Linked DNA regions of Homo sapiens. The protein of the gene in region 1 purifies or fractionates together with the protein of each later gene. This does not show direct contact. Each region holds a gene or a part of one and is shown in the gene's direction. Other genes may lie near its edges.

Region 1 (3,347 bases):
GGTAGGTACTGGGGGGCAGGGAGGCATAGCCCCCATAGCCAGGCCACTCCACTCTGCCACCCACCCTCGACCCAGCTGACTGTCAGAGCTTGGCAGGCCCAAAATGATATTGATTCCAGAGCTTTTGGTGTATATATGGGGAAACTGAGGCTCAGAGTGGGGCAGTGGCTTGCCCAGGGTTGCTGGCACAGGGATTTGGTGGCAGCGTCTGCCCTTCTGACTCCCAGTACAGTGCTCCTTGCCTACCCTATGCTGCAGACTCCGAACACTGTGGCTCTTCCCACGGCGGCTCTGCCTGAGGTTGCTGGGTGAGCCAGAGGCTGCTACATCTCCCCAGCCTGTGCCCGCCCAAGGTGCATGAACAGTCAAGTCAGAGTCCAGCAGCTCTGCGTGGCTGCTGGTTCTCAGAGGCTGCTCATGGGCATCAGGGATGTGGCCCCTTGAATTCCTCTGCTCCAGCTGCCTTTAGCCATGGCACAGCCCCTCACCCACTGCTGCCAGGGCCTCCGAGTTTCCGCAGGGTACAGCCCATGACAGTATTTGCAACAACAACAACAACGGTGACAATTTTAAGGACTGACCACGTGCCAGGCAGTGTTCTTGGTACTTGCATGTATTTACTCATTTACTCCCCCGGCCAACCTTATGGAGTATTATTATTCCCGGATCCAGTCACTCGTCCAAAGATACACATCTATTAAAGTGGTAACACTGGGATTTGAACCCAGGCAGGCTGCTCCGCCCATTCATTCAGAACGAATGATTGAGCACATTCGTTCTGGTGCTGTTCTGGGCATTGGGTACCAGGAGAGATGGTGGTGCCTGGGGCCAGGGTGCTAGCAGTGGGGGTGACGAGAAGGGGGCTGATTCTGAATCGGTCTAGAAGGCGGAGTTTGCTGATGATCAGAGTTTCTTGTTGGATTGGATGTGGGTGGGAGGGAGGAGTTTTTTTGTTTGTTTGTTTGTTTTTTGAAACGGAGTCTTGCTCTGTCACCCAGGCTGGAGTGCAGTGGCGCCATCTCGGCTCACTACAAGCTCTGCCTCCCAGGTTGATACCATTCTCCTGCCTCAGCCTCCTGAGTAGCTGGGACTACAGGCGCCCGCCACCACGCCCGGCTAATTTTTTGTATTTTTAGTAGAGACGGGGTTTCACCATGTTAGCCAGGATGGTCTTGATCTCCTGACCTCGTGATCCGCCCGCCTCGGCCTCCCAAAGTGCTGGGATTACAGGCGTGAGCCACCACGCCCAGCCTGGGAGGAGTTTTTACCAGAGCAGCTGGAAGGTGGAGTTGCCCTTGGCCAAGATGACAAGGAGCAAGCTGGGTTCGGGAGTGGGACATCCTAGTGGAGGTGTCCGGCAGGCAGTGCGATGCATGCGTCTGCAGTTCCTCCGAGCAGGCAGTCCAGCTGGGCAGCCTAAATGCAGCTGCACATTTAGAAGCTACGGGTGCAGTAAAGCCTGGGGGAGGCTGCCCAGGAAGGGAGAGCAGCTAGAGGAGAGGAAAGACCACAGGCTGAACCCCAGGGAGAGGAGGAGGAGGGCAAGGCCCCATAAGACCTAGGAGAGCCAGGAGAGTGGGGTCCTGGGGTGAAGTGCAGGCTCAGTCAGGTAGGAGGGAGTGATGCCCAGGGTCGGGGTTATCGAGGGATCAGTAGGAGCAGGGCTAAGGATTCTCTGATGGTGGCCGGGTGCGGTAGCTCACGCCTTGTAATCCCAGCACTTTGGGAGGCTGAGGAGGGTGGATTATTTGAGGAGTTTGAGACCAGCCTGACCAACATGGTGAAACCCCGTTGCTACTAAAAATACAAAAATTAGCCGGGCGTGGTGGCACATGCCTATAACCCAGCTACTTGGGAGGCTGAGGCAGGAGAATTGCTTGAACCCGGGAGGCGGAGGTTGCAGTGAGCCAAGATCGCACCACTGCACTCCAGTCTGGGCGACAGAGCGGGACTGTCTCAAAAAAGAGAGGATTCACTGCTGGGTTCAGTGGGAGCCACCAAGGAAACCTTTCTCATGGGCAGTTTCGGTGGATGCGGGGGTGTGGGGAATCTGCCAGGGACCCCACAAAGGCCCCATTTGCTTCCAGGAATGAGGTAGTTTGATGCCAATTTTTGTTTGTTTGTTTGTTTGTTTGTTTTGAGACAGAGTCTCACTCTGTCTCCCAGGCTGGAGTGCAGTGGTACAATCTGGGCTCACTGCAACCTCCACCTCCTGGGTTCAAGCGATTCTCCTGCCTCAGCCTCCCGAGTAGCTAGGATTGCAGGCTTGAGCCACCAAGCCCGGCTGATGCCAATTTTTATCAGGCAAGTTTCATGCCCAAACCAGCCGACTTCAGCCGACTTAGTGCTCCTGGAGATAGGAAGCCCCCTCCCGGGATCCCCGGCTCCCCAGCTGTAGTCCAGGCTGAAAGAACTCGGCCCTGGTGGCCTCACATTCTGCAGAGCAGCCCTCCCTCCACCAGGCAAGCAGTTGAGGCAGACAGCTGCTGCAACCATTTTGTGAGCAGATTTATTTATTTATTATTTTTTTGAGACGGAGTCTCACTCTGTAGCCCAGGCTGGAGTGCAGTGGCTCCATCTCAGCTCACTGCAACCTCCGCCTCCCAGGTTCAAGCGATTCTCCTGCCTCAGCCTCCAGAGTAGCTGGGACTACAGGTGCACGCCACCACGCCCAGCTAATTTTTGTATTTTTAGTAGAGACGGGGTTTCCCCTTGTTGGCCAGGCTGGTCTCGAACTCCTGACCTCAGGTGATCTGCCTGCCCTCAGCCTCCCAAAGTGCTGGGATTACAGGCGTGAGCCACCGAGCCCGGCCTGGATTGATTGATTTATTTTTATCTTTTTAATTGATTTATTTATTTATTTTGAGATGGAGTTTCACTCTGTCGCCCAGGCTGGAATGCAGTGGCGCGATCTCAGCTCCCTGCAACCTCCGCCTCCCAGGTTCATGCCATTCTCCTGCCTCAGCCTCCCGAGCAGCTGGGATTACAGGCACCCGCCATCATGCCCACCTAAATTTTGTATTTTTACTAGAGACAGGGTTTCACTGTTGGCCAGGCTGGTCTCAAACTCCTGACCTCAGGTGTTCCACCTGCCTCAGGCTCCCAAAGTGCTGGGATTACAGGCGTGAGCCACCACACCTGGCCCAGATTTGTTTTTAAAGGATCCCTTACTTCCTTATATGTTTTGCTCAGTTTGGTGGGTGTCCATGAGGGCCCTTACCCTGCAGAGAGGAAAGATTCTAGAACGGCAGGAGCAGGGTTCTGAGCCCCACCCCCAGGCTCAAATCCTGCCATTTCCAGCCAAGGCCAAGTTACATCGCCTTTCTGTGCCTCAGTTACCGCACCTG
Region 2 (5,337 bases), on another chromosome or scaffold:
GCTGATGTAGGGATCACTGGCCAGGATGGAGCAGGGTCCCTAGCGTGAGAGGGACGGACCACCCTGAGGAAGAGCTCAGAGGCAGAAGGGCCCTGTCTCTGCCACTTGTGTCTGAGCCCCCAAGATGCAGTTGAGTCTGGTAGGGAGGGAAAGAGAGAGGACCACGCATGTCCTGGGTCCACCTGTGGGGCCTTGGATCTTCCTCCTATTGGGAGACCCTCAGCTCAGCCTGGTCCTCAGCAGCTCACCCATCACACCACACATCCCCCTCATCCACCCGGACCCAGGCACAGACCCCACACCGAGACGTGCTCAGTTACACACACGCATGTGGACACAGCCTGTCCAGGCTGCAGATGTGGGGGCCTCTGCCTCTGAGACCTGGTGGATTTGGAGTTGCTCATGGCTCCCCAGGTCCCCTTGTTGCCTCCGCTGTGCGCACATCAGAGGCTGTGCCCTGGGCGTGACATGGGCCGAGCGAGGAGCTGTGGGTGATTGCTGGCTTCCACTGTTTCACCAGGGCAGGGGGCCTGGAGGTGGTCAGGGAGGCTCAGGCCGCCTGGGGGCTCTGGCGGGCAGTTGTAAACAGCATGTGCACTTGCTGGGCTATGCACAGGGCACCCCTCGCTCTCACCTGAGCCTCTGGTTTCCCGTGTCCTTCACCTCTGCCCCATGGGTGAGCCACCTGTTCCAACGTCCAGGGGTCTGTCTGTCAGCCTGAGCCTGTGCGCTGGGGCCGGTGCGTCCCGACCACCTGGAGCTCCTTGGGGTCACAGGTCAGGGGGCATGAATGTGAGCACTTGAGAGCCTTTCTGGGGGCGTCAACTCCTTGCCTCGGGGATAGGCCTGCCGGTGTTTTCAGCACCTCCGGGAGGGATCCTGTAGCAGGCGATGGCAGTGCCTTGGCCCCAGTGGTCAGTCAGGGTGGACTTGAGGAGGGCTGAGAAGTGGTCTCCGGCGAGACCTCGAGGATGGCGGGGGTGTGAAGCAGGAAGGGGCGGAGCTCCAGGTTCCTCAGTTCGTGGAGTGGCGTGACCCTCTCTCCCATGTTCTGACGTTTGGGGCAGGGACTGGAGAGGGATTTGATCGGGGGTCCTCTGGGTCGGGGCTCCCCTGACCCTTCTCTCTTCCCACAGGGTGCGGGGGGCAATGGCACTGCAGCTCTGGGCCCTGACCCTGCTGGGCCTGCTGGGCGCAGGTGCCAGCCTGAGGCCCCGCAAGCTGGACTTCTTCCGCAGCGAGAAAGAGCTGAACCACCTGGCTGTGGATGAGGCCTCAGGCGTGGTGTACCTGGGGGCGGTGAATGCCCTCTACCAGCTGGATGCGAAGCTGCAGCTGGAGCAGCAGGTGGCCACGGGCCCGGCCCTGGACAACAAGAAGTGCACGCCGCCCATCGAGGCCAGCCAGTGCCATGAGGCTGAGATGACTGACAATGTCAACCAGCTGCTGCTGCTCGACCCTCCCAGGAAGCGCCTGGTGGAGTGCGGCAGCCTCTTCAAGGGCATCTGCGCTCTGCGCGCCCTGAGCAACATCTCCCTCCGCCTGTTCTACGAGGACGGCAGCGGGGAGAAGTCTTTCGTGGCCAGCAATGATGAGGGCGTGGCCACAGTGGGGCTGGTGAGCTCCACGGGTCCTGGTGGTGACCGCGTGCTGTTTGTGGGCAAAGGCAATGGGCCACACGACAACGGCATCATCGTGAGCACTCGGCTGTTGGACCGGACTGACAGCAGGGAGGCCTTTGAAGCCTACACGGACCACGCCACCTACAAGGCCGGCTACCTGTCCACCAACACACAGCAGTTCGTGGCGGCCTTCGAGGACGGCCCCTACGTCTTCTTTGTCTTCAACCAGCAGGACAAGCACCCGGCCCGGAACCGCACGCTGCTGGCACGCATGTGCAGAGAAGACCCCAACTACTACTCCTACCTGGAGATGGACCTGCAGTGCCGGGACCCCGACATCCACGCCGCTGCCTTTGGCACCTGCCTGGCCGCCTCCGTGGCTGCGCCTGGCTCTGGCAGGGTGCTATATGCTGTCTTCAGCAGAGACAGCCGGAGCAGTGGGGGGCCCGGTGCGGGCCTCTGCCTGTTCCCGCTGGACAAGGTGCACGCCAAGATGGAGGCCAACCGCAACGCCTGTTACACAGGCACCCGGGAGGCCCGTGACATCTTCTACAAGCCCTTCCACGGCGATATCCAGTGCGGCGGCCACGCGCCGGTATGGGCCTCAGTGTGTTCTCGCAGGGCCCGGACTGCAGGCGTCCGTTCGTGGGTTTGCGTGTCCCAGCCTGCTGGGGAGGGTGCACGTGAGCAGTGTGGCCGTGGCTCTCGCCAGCCTGGGCGCTTGCGTGGGTGGGTGCCGCATCTCTCAATGCCATTCACGCTGGCGCCAGTCCCAGGCCTGTGTCGGGCACTGGGGAACACAACAGTGAGCACGGTGGGGCTCCCTGCCATGTGGGTTCTGTTCTCGGGGACGTGTGTAGGACGTGTGCCGGAGGGAAGGGAAGGGCCTGTCCCGAGTCTTGGAGCGCGAGTGGAGAGGGCCCTTCAGGACAGGGGGTCTGCCTGCCATTGACACGCTGTGGTCCGCAGGGCTCCAGCAAGAGCTTCCCATGTGGCTCGGAGCACCTGCCCTACCCGCTGGGCAGCCGCGACGGGCTCAGAGGCACAGCCGTGCTGCAGCGTGGAGGCCTGAACCTCACGGCCGTGACGGTCGCCGCCGAGAACAACCACACTGTTGCTTTTCTGGGCACCTCTGATGGCCGGATCCTCAAGGTTTGGCCCAGGCTGGGGCGGGGAGGCTCTGGAGGGCCCGTCTGTGCACAAGGCCCGTACCCTCACCGGCCTGCCCTCGCGCACACAGGTGTACCTCACCCCAGATGGCACCTCCTCAGAGTACGACTCTATCCTTGTGGAGATAAACAAGAGAGTCAAGCGCGACCTGGTACTGTCTGGAGACCTGGGCAGCCTGTACGCCATGACCCAGGACAAGGTGAGCCAGACGCAGCCCCGGAGAGCACTCTAGGCCAAGTGTGCCCGGTCATTGCATCCCAGGCCCTTAGGACAGGCCTGGGGGCCAGAGGAGGATGGGGTGCTGCAGAGCTGGGCCCTTCTCCTTGGTCTGGATGAGGGGTGGCTGGGTGGGTCCCGGGCAGTGCCTCCATCCTGTGTCTCTCTAGCACTGCCCCGTCTCTGCCGCTCCTTCTGTTTGTCCTTTGTGGTCTCAACCATGTCTCTCCCTCTGGCCCCGCCTCTGCCCTGTCCTGATGGAAGGGACCTGGGTTGGTGTCTGAGGCGTGTTGCTGAGGGTGGATGGGAAGACGGGGTCCCTGCACAGCCCATGTGAGCTCAGTCAGTGGAGAACATGGGCCTGGGCCCCAAGCTTGTGGGGGGTTAGTGCCAGAGACCCTCAGGCCAGCCCTAGGAGCACCCCTCGGAGGGAGCCAGTGTAGAGGACAGGAGCTGCCCCGGGAGACACCATAGCCAAGACCTCCAGGCTTCCCTGGGCTCCCATCGGGATCCTGGGCCAGGCATGGCCACCCAGAGCCAGAACTGTTTAATATCAAGCCTGAGGTGTCTGAGGCTCCCGAGGCCCCGGGACAGAGCTGGGTCAAGCTGGCGGTCTGGGGACATCTGGGGTCTGCGGAAGGCCCGTGCGGCCTCTGCTGTGGTCCCACTCACGGCCCCGCTGCCCTAGGTGTTCCGGCTGCCGGTGCAGGAGTGCCTGAGCTACCCGACCTGCACCCAGTGCCGCGACTCCCAGGACCCCTACTGCGGCTGGTGCGTCGTCGAGGGACGGTGAGTGCCTGGGGTGGCTCGGGGACACGGCCTGCCTCTGGGATCCCGGAAGGTCGTGGCCTGGGTCGGGGGGCACATCGCACTGTCCTGTCCCGGGAGAACAAGACTCCACCCTGGGCTGAGGCCGCCCCCTGCGCCTGCAGATGCACCCGGAAGGCCGAGTGTCCGCGGGCCGAGGAGGCCAGCCACTGGCTGTGGAGCCGAAGCAAGTCCTGCGTGGCCGTCACCAGCGCCCAGCCACAGAACATGAGCCGGCGGGCCCAGGGGGAGGTGCGTGGTGGGTCTGGGGTGGGGGTCCTGGGCCCCAGGCCGGGCCAGGTGGGGGCTCCCCCATGCTGGGAGCTGTTGGGACAGGCAGGGGAGGGCTCCACATCTCCCCCGCCTGGGCTCTGGGCACCGAGCCTTAGGGATGGAGCCCGCCCTCCATTGGTCCCCTGGACCCCTATGACCTGGGCGGGCAGGGGTGGGGCTTGTCCATATCCAGGGTGGACTCAGGCCCTGTCCCAGGAGTTGCTGGGGTGACCACAGAGAGGCCTGTATTGGAAGACGTGGAGTCGGGTTCTGGAGGCTCCACTGGGACGTGCGCCCACACACGCAGGGAGGTCGGGTCACCGGCAGGTGGGCTGACAGGACTCGGGGTTCCCAGTGTGAGCGGCACGGCCCCTCCCTCAGGTGCAGCTGACCGTCAGCCCCCTCCCTGCCCTGAGCGAGGAGGACGAGTTGCTGTGCCTTTTTGGGGAGTCGCCGCCACACCCCGCCCGCGTGGAGGGCGAGGCCGTCATCTGCAACTCCCCAAGCAGCATCCCCGTCACACCGCCAGGCCAGGGTGAGGCCCCTTCCCGAGCCCCCGGGTGGCCCTTCTCGGTCGCACGGGGCCCTGTGCACACGGGCTCTCGCCTCTGCTGGCCCCTGGGTGCAGGCTCTGCACAGGCACACTCCGCGGCTGCTCCGGGGGCCCAGCCTGAATGAAGCCTGTGGTGGGGTTGCTGTGCCTGTTGGGGAGGTTCTGGCTTCTTGGGCTGTCCGCAGCCACGCCCCCCAGGCCTGTAGCAAAGGTGACTTGTCTTCAGCCTGCTCCCTCATCACGTCCGGAGCGGCATGTGGGTGCCAGGCGCCAGGCCCCGTCGTCTCGGCAGACGCCCCTCACCCCTTCCTGCCATGTCCAGCTTCAGAGAGCAGGGCCGTTCCCAGAGGCTGCAGGGCCTCGCATGTGGGCCAGGGCAGGCGTCGCGCCCATGTCCCCTGAGTTTTGGGGGCAGTGGGGCCACGCAGTGACGTGGGCAGGGACCTGGCAGGTCCCACTCAGACTCCAAGGAGCCGCTGCCCTCAGTGCCTGCGGGAACAGAGGGTATGAAAGCAACCTGGACCCGGGGGAGAAAGGCAAGCCCGGTGCTGCGCCCGACACCCGAACCAAGATCTGATAGCAGGTGGCAGGTCCAGCCCAGCGTGAACGGGCGTCCTGGCAGCCCCACCCGAGATCTGATAGCAGGTGGCAGGCCCCGCCCAACATGAATGCGGGGCGTCCTGGCAGGGCCCCCTG
Region 3 (5,337 bases), on another chromosome or scaffold:
TCCAGCCTGGGTGACTAGAGTGAGACCCTATCTTAAAAAAAAGAAATTAATTTTTAGGGCACCATGCAGAGGTCATAAGATCTCAGAGTAAACAAGCAAATGGAGCTGAAAACATGGGTTGTTTGAATGCAACTGCAGAGACTATAGGAAATTGTAAAAATTGAGGTTCTGAGCATAAAGTGTAAAAATGCATTTCAGCAGGTTATGTGACTTGTAGATGTGGTTATTTTGTGCATATTTTAAATGCTGGCCATCACTGTGCTGCTCATGTGGGCTGCTCTTGCCCCTGCCTTCCAATTTTAAAGGCCACAGGAAAATTATATAGAGAGGGAAGAAACAGGTAGTGAGGTATATGGAGCTCAGGAGCCCACACACCAGCAGCAGCTAGCCCAGTCTTTAGGACCCAGAAAACAAGTAACACGTGTCAGGGCCTCCTGAAGAAAAAGGTGACCAGCCACCAGGGTGGGAGGAAGAGGCTGTGTTCATGACCAAAGGCTCAAACAGGGACTAATGCAAAGCTCACAAAAATATGAGAAATAGAAGTAGGGAAAAACAAAAGCTGAGACTGTAAGCAAGGGGCTGCTGTCACCTGTTCTTTTAGATGGAAGGCAAAAACTGTGCCCACCTGAGCTGCTGGGTTGGGCGTATCCTGCGTAAATGATCCTGCATAAATCCTGCAAAAGCTGTTAGAATAAGGTATCAAAAAGGCCATTTTTCTTTTCCTTCCAACACATACACCTAAGGAATCAAGCTCTGCTGAAGCACAGGAAGATAGGGGACAGTCAAGAGCACAGGCTGCCAGGTCAGGTGGAGCTGTGTTCAACTCCGGCTCTGCCACTGAGTGACTTCACTGCTGCATGCTGGTCTCCACATGCTTATCTCAGCAGGCCACCTGAGGGTGCAAGAATGGTGCACATGAGGTGCTTAGCAGCCCGCAAGAGGTCATTGGTAGTTCTTATCGCCATCACCTGCTCTGCTCTAGCAACGGGGGTGAGAGGGACCAAGGGTGTCAGAGCTGTGCTGCCACTGCTGAAGCAGCCTCCCCCGCATGGTGGGAAGGCCCTGCCCCGAGCCCTTCCTTCTGGCCGCAGACACTGCAGAATGAGATTCTGGGCCATACGCCGCGGGTTGAGGATGTGCTGCAGAGAGGGCAGCAGCTGGTGGAGGCGGCGGAGATCGACTGCCAGGACCTTGAGGAGCGCCTGGGGCACCTGCAGAGCTCCTGGGACAGGCTGCGGGAGGCAGCGGCCGGGAGGCTGCAGCGACTGAGGGACGCCAACGAGGCACAGCAGTACTACCTGGATGCAGACGAGGCTGAGGCCTGGATTGGCGAGCAGGAGCTCTACGTCATCTCCGATGAGATCCCCAAGGTCTGTTCGGGCAGGGGATACCAGCCAGGGTGCCCAGGCAGAGAGGAAGAGTTGAGGTTGGCTGTCGGTAGGGAGCCTTGTGAGTCCAACTGTGTGAGGAGTGAGGCCAGGGGAGGGGCACAAGGAACCCACAGACTCCCTGCCCTCCCTTGGTGCCTCCTTGAACACACCCCTGCAGGGCACACACTGAAGCCAGGTGCCTCCTGTTTACCCACTTAGGTTTGCTCTAACCCAAGGGTTCTCTACTTTTCTTTACCCTGGATTCTGTACGCTATGAAAGAGATGGGGTGAGAGGTGACAGGTGGGGGTCTCTCAAAGCTGGAATGATATAGGATGTTTTCATGGGGACAGGGGTTAGAGCACAAAAGGAAGGGTATATGTCGGATACGAATCAGGGGAGTCCAGAGAGGAAGGTAGGGCACGGGCATTGCTGGGAAATCAGAAGGGCAGGAAGGAAGCATGTGTGGCTCTCCTGCGGGTGTCCCACAAGCCTACTCCCCTCCTCCCTCGGGCACCTCCAGGAGTGGGGGCACAACTTGCCAAGGGAGGGATCATGGCCAGACTGAGCTCTGGCGCTGACCGTCTGCTGCCTCCTAGGATGAAGAGGGCGCCATTGTGATGCTGAAGCGACATTTGCGGCAGCAGCGTGCGGTGGAGGACTACGGCCGGAACATCAAGCAGCTGGCCAGCCGGGCCCAGGGCCTGCTGTCTGCAGGCCACCCTGAGGGGTGCGTGCGCCCCCTGTGGTGACTCGGTCAGGAGATGGGGATTGAGCCAGGGGCCCACCAGCCAACGTCCCTTCAGATTTAAAAGGAAAATGGAAAGAGTTTTCCCATCAAATAGGGCTGGAGAAAATTGCTGCGGGACTGGTGATGGATCCAATTTCATTTTATGCCTTGGTTTTGTGTGAATCACTTCCAGCTGGGCCATCGAGGCCCTGGTTTTCGAAATGATCAGAGAAGGGGTTAGCAAAACTACCCTCTTGGTGACCTGAGAGCACCAATTTTCCGAAGGGTTACAATATGCTAAGGGACACTGAAGACTACTTTAGCTTTTATTTTTATGGTCCAGAAGGTCTCCAGGACTTCACAGTCCAGACAGAACCATGATGTAGGAGTGCAGGTGGAAACCTGTGCCCACATGGGCTGCGAGGTTTTGTGGATCCTGCATAAATGGAAGCCCACTGGGCCACAGACCACACACTGCCCCCAGCCATGGCCCTGTCCTCAGCTGCCATTAGGGTGCCCACCACTGTGGGTCCTCAGCAGCCACCCCAGAGGTTTCCCTGGGAGCCACATTGTCTGGGCCCCTAGTATGTCTTTTCCCTCCCTGGAGGGCTGAGCAGAGCTGTTGCTGCGGGAGCCCCACTCAGGTAGTGCTGCTCCCCCAGCCTCTCTGGAAGAACAATGGAGGCGTTCCCCATTTGCACTTGTCCCTGTAAGCTTGCCAGAGTGAGGGGCACCATGGGAAGCACCCCTCCAGGACAGAATTCCAGGACACAGTGTGTCATCCCCTGAGGCTAGGGTGTGGCCCCTTCTCTCCCCAGCTCTTCCCCGGCAAAGCCCCTGTCATTTCTCCAGAGCTTCACTCCCTACCTATCCCTGCCAGGGGGCTGTGGTTGGCATATGTTGGCTCCCTGGAGCCACGGCTCTGGGTTCGTGGCTGCCGTCTCTGAGGGCCTTTTTGGTTTTGAATTCCAGGGAACAGATCATCAGACTTCAGGGGCAAGTGGACAAGCACTACGCAGGGCTGAAGGACGTGGCGGAAGAGCGCAAGCGCAAGCTGGAGAACATGTACCACCTGTTCCAGCTCAAGCGGGAGACCGACGACCTGGAGCAGTGGATTTCAGAAAAGGAGCTAGTGGCCTCTTCCCCGGAAATGGGGCAAGACTTTGACCACGTGACTGTGAGTAGCCACAACTCCTGCTGTTTTTGTCTTTCTCTAATGCGGTAGACGCAGCCAGCCGTCACTCAAGACACACAGAGTGCTGCATAGGACGTAACCTCCCCAGTGTGAGGCGGGACCAGCCGATGCAGGCCTGCCCTGGGGAAGGTGTGACAGCGCAGCTCCCGGAGCTGCAGTTGCTGCCTGGGAAAGTCTTTGGCTAAGCTGGTGACACCTGTAACCCCTGTGCCCCCCATAACCACATTTCTGTCTGCCCCATGCCTAGCTTCTGCGGGACAAGTTCCGGGACTTTGCCCGGGAGACCGGGGCGATTGGGCAGGAGCGGGTGGACAATGTGAATGCCTTCATCGAGCGACTCATCGACGCGGGCCACAGCGAGGCGGCCACCATCGCCGAGTGGAAGGACGGGCTGAACGAGATGTGGGCAGACCTCCTGGAGCTCATTGACACGCGCATGCAGCTGCTGGCCGCCTCCTATGACCTGCACCGCTACTTCTACACGGGTGCCGAGATCCTGGGCCTCATCGACGAGAAGCACCGCGAGCTGCCCGAGGACGTGGGGCTGGACGCCAGCACGGCCGAGTCCTTCCACCGGGTGCACACAGCCTTCGAGCGGGAGCTCCACCTGCTGGGTGTCCAGGTACCTTCAGCCCCCTGCCGCCCACCTGCTACCAATTTCCAGGAGCCCTGGGTGTCAGTCCCCACCTGGCTGTCAGCAGGAAAACCTCTAGGATAAGTGCCAGGAGGTTTTGCCTCCTTAGACAGCCAGGAGCTCAGGGCTGGGAGCAGTGGCTTTCAGATGTTCCTTAGCTTCAGAAGTCATTCTTTAAACTGAATCCTCACAAAAGGCCAATGCATACAATACTATACGGTTGCAGTTTCTCCAGTTGTGCAGTACTATTAGTGGACACACGCACAGCACTTTTCTAGCACCAGGTGCTCTTCTGAGCAATGTATGTAGCCGCTGGACCCTCATGGCAGTCCTCTGAGGCAGCTACTAATATTCCCTGCACTTTGTAGATGAGAAAAGGGAGAGGTAGAAGACCCATAAGTTTCCCAGGAACATGTAGGTACGAAGTGGAGCCAGGGCTCAGACCCTGGCAGTCTAGCTATAGACCCCACATACTTAGCCACCGGGCACTTCAGCCTTTCCACATGGGAGCTGGAGAGCCCCCAAGTTCTACTGTTCAGACCCCTGCCCCATCACTGGAGTGCCCTCCGCAGATCCGTAGGGTGCCCCAGAGCTTGGTGTGATAGAAAGGGCAAATGCAAGGGGGCCCCTGTTGCTGAGGGCTCCCCCAGCTTCCAGTGCAGCAGGGAGAGGTAGGCTGGCTGCGCAATCCCAGGCCAGCCCTGCAGGGCTTGGGGACAGAACACCAGGGTTGGCTGGGCCCCTGGTTCATCCAAAAGGGGACCTCTTAGGGAAGTGTCCTCCAGCTGGAGTGGAGGGCCTGGTGTGTGGCTGTTGCATTTGGGGATGCCAGGGCCCCTGAGATAGGTGTAGCCCCACTGAGGTCTTAGGAGTGAGGTTTCACTGTCCCCAGGGCCAGCCTCAATCAGGGGATCTGGTGCAACCACTTCCTTGGAGAGGCAGCACACAGAATGGTTAAGAACGGGGACTCAGGAGCACGGTGCAAATCCCAGCTGTACCCCTTTACTAGTGTGAAGGACCCTGGACCAGTTACTTAGCTTCCTTGTGCCTCGTTTTCCCCATCTCAGAAACAGCAATAGTAATAGTACCTCCTTCCTGGGTTTGTTGGAAAGACGAAGAGAGTTCATCAGTAGAAAGTGTTTAGAACAGTGCCTGATATGTAGTTCCTCTCATTAGTGTATTGTTGAGGAGATCAAAGGGCAGGATTTCCTCTCACTCCCAAACCTTCACAAAGTTCAAGAGGTATCTTGGGTAGGCAGAGGTGTTAAAGCAAGGAGTCTTCTCCTACAGCACCCACTGGGTGGAGGCTGAAGATCCTACCTTCCAGCAGTGCCCTGGGCAGGGAGGCCAGGAGGAGGTAGCTGCCCTTCCAGTCCTAGGCCCACAGCACCTAGGGAGCAATGTCCAGGG
Region 4 (5,337 bases), on another chromosome or scaffold:
ATTTCATAGAAGTGAGCTTGTAGTGGACAAAACAAAGAGGAAAAAAAGAAGAGAACTGTCTGAGGAACAGAAACAAGAAATTAAAGATGCTTTTGAACTATTTGATACAGACAAAGATGAAGCAATAGATTATCATGAATTAAAGGTAATGGTATACTTTAAAATATTTGTTTCTGTGTTAAAATGATTTGCATTTTTACAGTTGCTTTACATTACATTTCTAAATAATTATTTTAACTAAATTGGTTTTGGAACTATGAAGGCATTTTAAGCATTCATAGTTAGATGCTGTAATAAAACTGAAGAGAACTCCTAACATAGTTTTTAGAAAATCTTTTTCACATGAGAAAACGAATAGTATTTTAAATGTAAAAATACATTCCCAGGGAAGGTGCTTATTTTTCACTGTCATAATTAAAGGATTTCAAACTGGAATTTATTCTTACCATCTTCTTTTCACTGTTTTTTGTTTTTGTTTTTGTTTCTTGGTGACTCATACTGTTTTCAGACTGTGGGAGTGTTGTCTTTTAATCTTATAATTTGGATTTGTTAGTAACATAGTCTCAATCCACTTTCTCTGGTGCAAACAACTTTAGTGCTGTTTGATGTTGACACATGCTAATAGGTAAAAATGTCAGCTTTAAGACCTAGAATGTCAAAGTGTAGGGAGAGATTTGTAAATTATTATTTGTCAGGGTATAAGGAGAGATTTGGGTTTAGGGTAGAATGGGACTTACTTTCAGCACAGTGGGAAAGATAGTATTTTGAGATTTTTAATGGCCTTAATGGATAGGTGAATGTAAGTGTTTATTTGGTAGTTTTAATTTTTGTAATTTCGTAAGGGATTTTTAAGCATTAGAATTCCAAGTAGGGATAGGAACTATGCAGTGACAGGATAGAATGTATAAAAGCAGTTAATAGGCCTGCTAAGTCTAGCTTTCTCAATCTTGCAGTCCTCTTTGGCTCTCTTTTCCCACTGTTTTTTTTGTTTTTTTTTTTTTTTGGTTACCCAGATTTGATCTTCCTTTATAATGTCTGTTCCATTTGTAACCATTGACTATCTTGGTTTGGGACCTTATTTCATACCTGGAGCTTCCTAAATGATTTCTTACTAGTTCACCTTGTACACTACCACTGAATTTAGATAGTTTAAAAATTCTTTCACCATTGCTCATAAATTGTTCATTGCTCATAAACCATAACTCCTCATTGTATACTACTTAAAGTTCAGATTCCTTTGCTTTCTACTGAATGTTCTCTACACTTTTGCCACCAACTACTTTTTTCATTTGCTAACTGCTTTCTTCCTCCTGAACTCTTCTAATTAAGGTGGAATTCACCTCCTAATTCAGGTGAGCAGTTTACCTCACCTGAACTTTTCTAATTCAGGTGAGGTAAACTGCTCTGTTCATTGTCCTTCGAACCTATTCGTTTCAGTGTTTCTTTTAATACCAGTCATCCTTCCCAAATACCCTACTGCTCCTCTTCATCTATCCTTCAAGGAACAGTTTGAATCTTTCCAAATAAGACTTCTCTAGTCAGTAATATGTCTCCTTCCTTATTATTAGTAACAAAATCTCTTTTTTCTCTAAACTCAGGGTCCTTAGCCCTATCATTTACCTGGTAACTAATCATGGAAAGACTGATGATAATTCTTGTTTTAATGTTTTATCTCTTCTATCATGTAACTGTTTAATATTTATGCCACGCCTTTTTCTCATTTTGATTGTTAATCCCTTCAGAACAAATAACAATCAAATTATCTGTGCAATAAGTTAGTGCATTTTATATAGTAAAATCTGTAAACACTTGTTGGTTACTTTGTCATATAAAAAATGCAATTTATAAATGAAAAAACTTATGCATACTTAATTTCAGTAGTGAAGAACAATTACACTATCACTGCTATTTTAAAGAGGTAAAACATGCAAAAAAGTTATATTTTATTAATGTGTTGTCATCTCTTAAGATGTAAAAACTTAATAATTAGAAATTCTTTTGTAAAGAGTGCTTTATAATTTGCTTTTCCTTTTTAATCCAAAAGGTGGCAATGAGAGCCTTGGGGTTTGATGTAAAAAAAGCTGATGTACTGAAGATTCTTAAAGATTATGACAGAGAAGCCACAGGGAAAATCACCTTTGAAGATTTTAATGAAGTTGGTGTGTATTTTAATAGTCTTTGTAATCAGCAGCTGTTAGGAAATTGTCTGATTAATATCACTTTTTAAATTTTAAATTCTCTAGGTTATGGAATTTTCTTATAGAACACTGGTGTATAATGTGACTCTTACTCAGTTTTGTTTTGTTGGTTTTTTTTTCAAAGAAAAAATATGGCTTTGCTCTGAGATTTATAGTTTTGTCTTTTGTTTTGTTGTGAAGATTCTAACCAAGGAACTATTGTGTAGCTTTTTATAGAAAGATGCTTTTCCAAGTTGTTTGTATTTATATTATGTGATAAAACTTGAAGGGTGATCAAAAAATTATTTTTGCTTAATAAAACAGAAAATTTGATATCCTGCTGTTTGGAAAATGTTTCCCAAGACCTTTCTGGTATGTGATTTTTGTTGGCTAAGTGGGAGAAGAGGGAACTGGTAGTAGTTGGTATCTTTGGCTGTAGATGAAATGCACGACTTCAGGTTGACAAAGTTTATGAGAGGCTACATCCTCTGGATGACCTTGATCTCAGTGGATAAAGTCATCTGTTTAGAGGGTAGTAGTAAAGGAGGCAGTGGGCATACTGGAAGCAGGAGAAAACATCCTAGTACCACCAACTGAAGATAATGTGTCATAGGCTTAATATGGCTAAATTTTTTTATAGTTGATTTTAGTGAATTATTTATAGCATATATAGACCAGGCTTTTTCAAAATAGAAGAGTCCGGAAGGCAAGGATGTTGCTATTATAACTTAAATGTATTGTCTAGAATATTATCTACAAAATATGTAAATATTCAGGTTTATTTCTTTTTTTTTTTTTCTCTAAACCAATGGGTCACGATATAAGCACATCATATAAGTATTTTAAGATATTTTAAAAATTTGGAAACAAATTCTGCTATATACACAAACCCCTTATTTTAAATATTAATCAAGAAGCAATAGGGGAAGCAAAAAGAAATGGCAATTAGTAGACGCAGAGAAAATTTAGATTCATGTCATTAGTCAGTTTTTTAAATCCAAAAGCTCAAGTCATAAGCAGTTGAGATGGAAAATAAATGATGAACCTAAGAGAAAAAAAACACAGCACAGAAGATCCTCAACTTATGAACTAATATATGACTGTTTAGAGAGGCAACTTGTCCATTGGGGACATTTTCCTTTTTTCCTCTAATTTGTAGAATTAATTATTTGAGGAAAGGGAGAGAGCCACCTTTTGTTCTCCCAGAATGGACACTCTCCTGAAGTTTATGATCGTAGTATTCCTAGTTTTACCTTAGATTGTTTATTTGTAGAAACAAGGTGTTTGTATATAGTGGAAATGGTACTATTAGGAAGGAGCTATAATCCAGGTATGTTTAGTACAGTATAGTGGTTTAGCACTTGGAACCAGATTCCCTTGGTTCATACCTTGGTTTTGCCACTTTACAGCTCTGGAACTTGGTCTTTTTAATACCCCATGCCTCATTTTCAACTATAAAGTGGGGATCATTGTATTCTCTCATGAGATTCTTCTAAGGATTAAGTTAATGATATGTGAAGTACCTAGAAAAGGGCCTAGCATGTTGTAAGTGCTACTAAGCATTTGCTATTATTATTACTTTAAAAAATTGTCTTTGTTTCAGGGGCTCGAAATAATCATATATGCATCACTGGGACATAAAATAGACTTTGTGTATATTTTTTATTGACTTTTTTCATAAAGGCTATTGTAAGCACTGTATCATCACTAATAATTTTACAAAATATGTTATTTCACCTTAAATGAACACAATTTAAAAATTGTGATTTTTTTTTTTTTTTTTTTTTTTTTCTTTTGAGACAGAGTCTCGCTCTGTCGCCCAGGCTGGAGTGCAGTGGCGGGATCTCGGCTCACTGCAAGCTCCGCCTCCCGGGTTCACGCCATTCTCCTGCCTCAGCCTCCCAAGTAGCTGGGACTACAGGCGCCCGCCACTACGCCCGGCTAATTTTTTGTATTTTTAGTAGAGACGGGGTTTCACCGTTTTAGCCGGGATGGTCTCGATCTCCTGACCTCGTGATCCGCCCGCCTCGGCCTCCCAAAGTGCTGGGATTACAGGCGTGAGCCACCGCGCCCGGCCAAAAATTGTGATTTTTATTGGCAGTTGGGACCAGAATCCCATGCCACCTCCACTTTTTCCTGACACCCCATCTGTTCTATGTTATTAACAGAGCAGAAATACTGGGTTCCTTCTAGAATAAATAGATGTGGCTAAACTTCAGCTTTGACACTAAAAGATTAACCTTTTGACAGGGTCAACATGTATCTTAGCTATCTTAAGGCTACCTATGGAGAGTACCAGGTGTCAAATAAAAATGTATTACTGTTTGGGAATCATTCAGGAACTATGTATTACCCCTTTTGTTGATTATTTTTAACTAATCACTGACCACAGATTAATATGTTTTATACTTTGGGACAGATGATTCTAAATCATAACATTTGAGTCCTAGTTTTATGAACTACCCAAGGACACTGTTCCACAGATATATCTGGATGAAGTTTGGCAGTTAACTATTATAGACTCTTCCTAGTACTGGAAAAAAGCTTTAAAATATATTTAATTTAAGTTTAGAGTCAAGACAGCCTGAGGCTAGTGAGTAACATAGATATTTTAGGAATTAGTGTCTTTAAGACTAACATAAGTCAAACGTTTGTACACTATTTTTGACATGTACTACTTATTATTGCTGATTGAGATTGTAATACTGTATTATTGTCTTCATTTTGCTTATTTAACACTGAATTTTTTGGTATTAGGTACTGTACTGGGGTTGGGAAGAAGACTTAATTAAAAGTTACTAAAAGGTTCTTCTTTCAGGGAGTTTACAATGTAAATATAGGTGACAACAGGCTATAGTACTATGTGGTAAATTGTAATTTTGTCTAGGACAGAAGTCAGCAACTATAGCCTTTGGACCAAATTCAGCTGCTGCTTGTACACCACCACACCCCTTCTTTTATGCAGCTTTTGTGCTACTATGGCAGAGTGAGTAGTTAGAGACTTTATGGCCCTCTACAAAGCCTAAAATATTTACTATTGGCCTTTTACAGGAAAGATTTGTTAATCCCTGATCTAGAGGAATTGAAGTCTTTGCAGAGGAGATTTTAAATTTAGGCCTTTGGAAATGTGAGTAAGATTTCATTCCAAGATTGCCAGGAA

The links. Proteins that work in one complex are often made in the same cells at the same time.
Region 2: the proteins of RHOD (region 1) and PLXNB2 purify together in Homo sapiens (affinity purification with mass spectrometry; 5 studies listed by BioGRID and IntAct, with this or other methods). This does not show direct contact.
Region 3: the proteins of RHOD (region 1) and SPTB purify together in Homo sapiens (affinity purification with mass spectrometry; 3 studies listed by BioGRID and IntAct, with this or other methods). This does not show direct contact.
Region 4: the proteins of RHOD (region 1) and CETN3 purify together in Homo sapiens (affinity purification with mass spectrometry; 3 studies listed by BioGRID and IntAct, with this or other methods). This does not show direct contact.

What each region holds. Positions count from the first base shown.
Region 1 is NC_000011.10:67,066,847-67,070,193, forward strand, and holds part of RHOD (rho-related GTP-binding protein RhoD), read left to right. Parts: coding exon 1-1; intron 2-3,347. UniProt on the Homo sapiens protein: Involved in endosome dynamics. May coordinate membrane transport with the function of the cytoskeleton. Involved in the internalization and trafficking of activated tyrosine kinase receptors such as PDGFRB.
Region 2 is NC_000022.11:50,286,397-50,291,733, reverse strand, and holds part of PLXNB2 (plexin-B2 isoform 3 precursor), read left to right. Parts: intron 1-1,136; coding exon of another isoform or gene 1,137-1,149; coding exon 1,150-2,217; intron 2,218-2,591; coding exon 2,592-2,774; intron 2,775-2,862; coding exon 2,863-2,991; intron 2,992-3,696; coding exon 3,697-3,797; intron 3,798-3,940; coding exon 3,941-4,067; intron 4,068-4,469; coding exon 4,470-4,623; intron 4,624-5,337.
Region 3 is NC_000014.9:64,771,158-64,776,494, reverse strand, and holds part of SPTB (spectrin beta chain, erythrocytic), read left to right. Parts: intron 1-743; coding exon of another isoform or gene 744-845; exon of another isoform or gene 846-1,076; intron 1,077-1,091; coding exon 1,092-1,370; intron 1,371-1,967; coding exon 1,968-2,098; intron 2,099-3,070; coding exon 3,071-3,275; intron 3,276-3,540; coding exon 3,541-3,915; intron 3,916-5,337.
Region 4 is NC_000005.10:90,402,507-90,407,843, reverse strand, and holds part of CETN3 (centrin-3), read left to right. Parts: intron 1-9; coding exon 10-145; intron 146-2,044; coding exon 2,045-2,159; intron 2,160-5,337. UniProt on the Homo sapiens protein: Plays a fundamental role in microtubule-organizing center structure and function. As a component of the TREX-2 complex, involved in the export of mRNAs to the cytoplasm through the nuclear pores.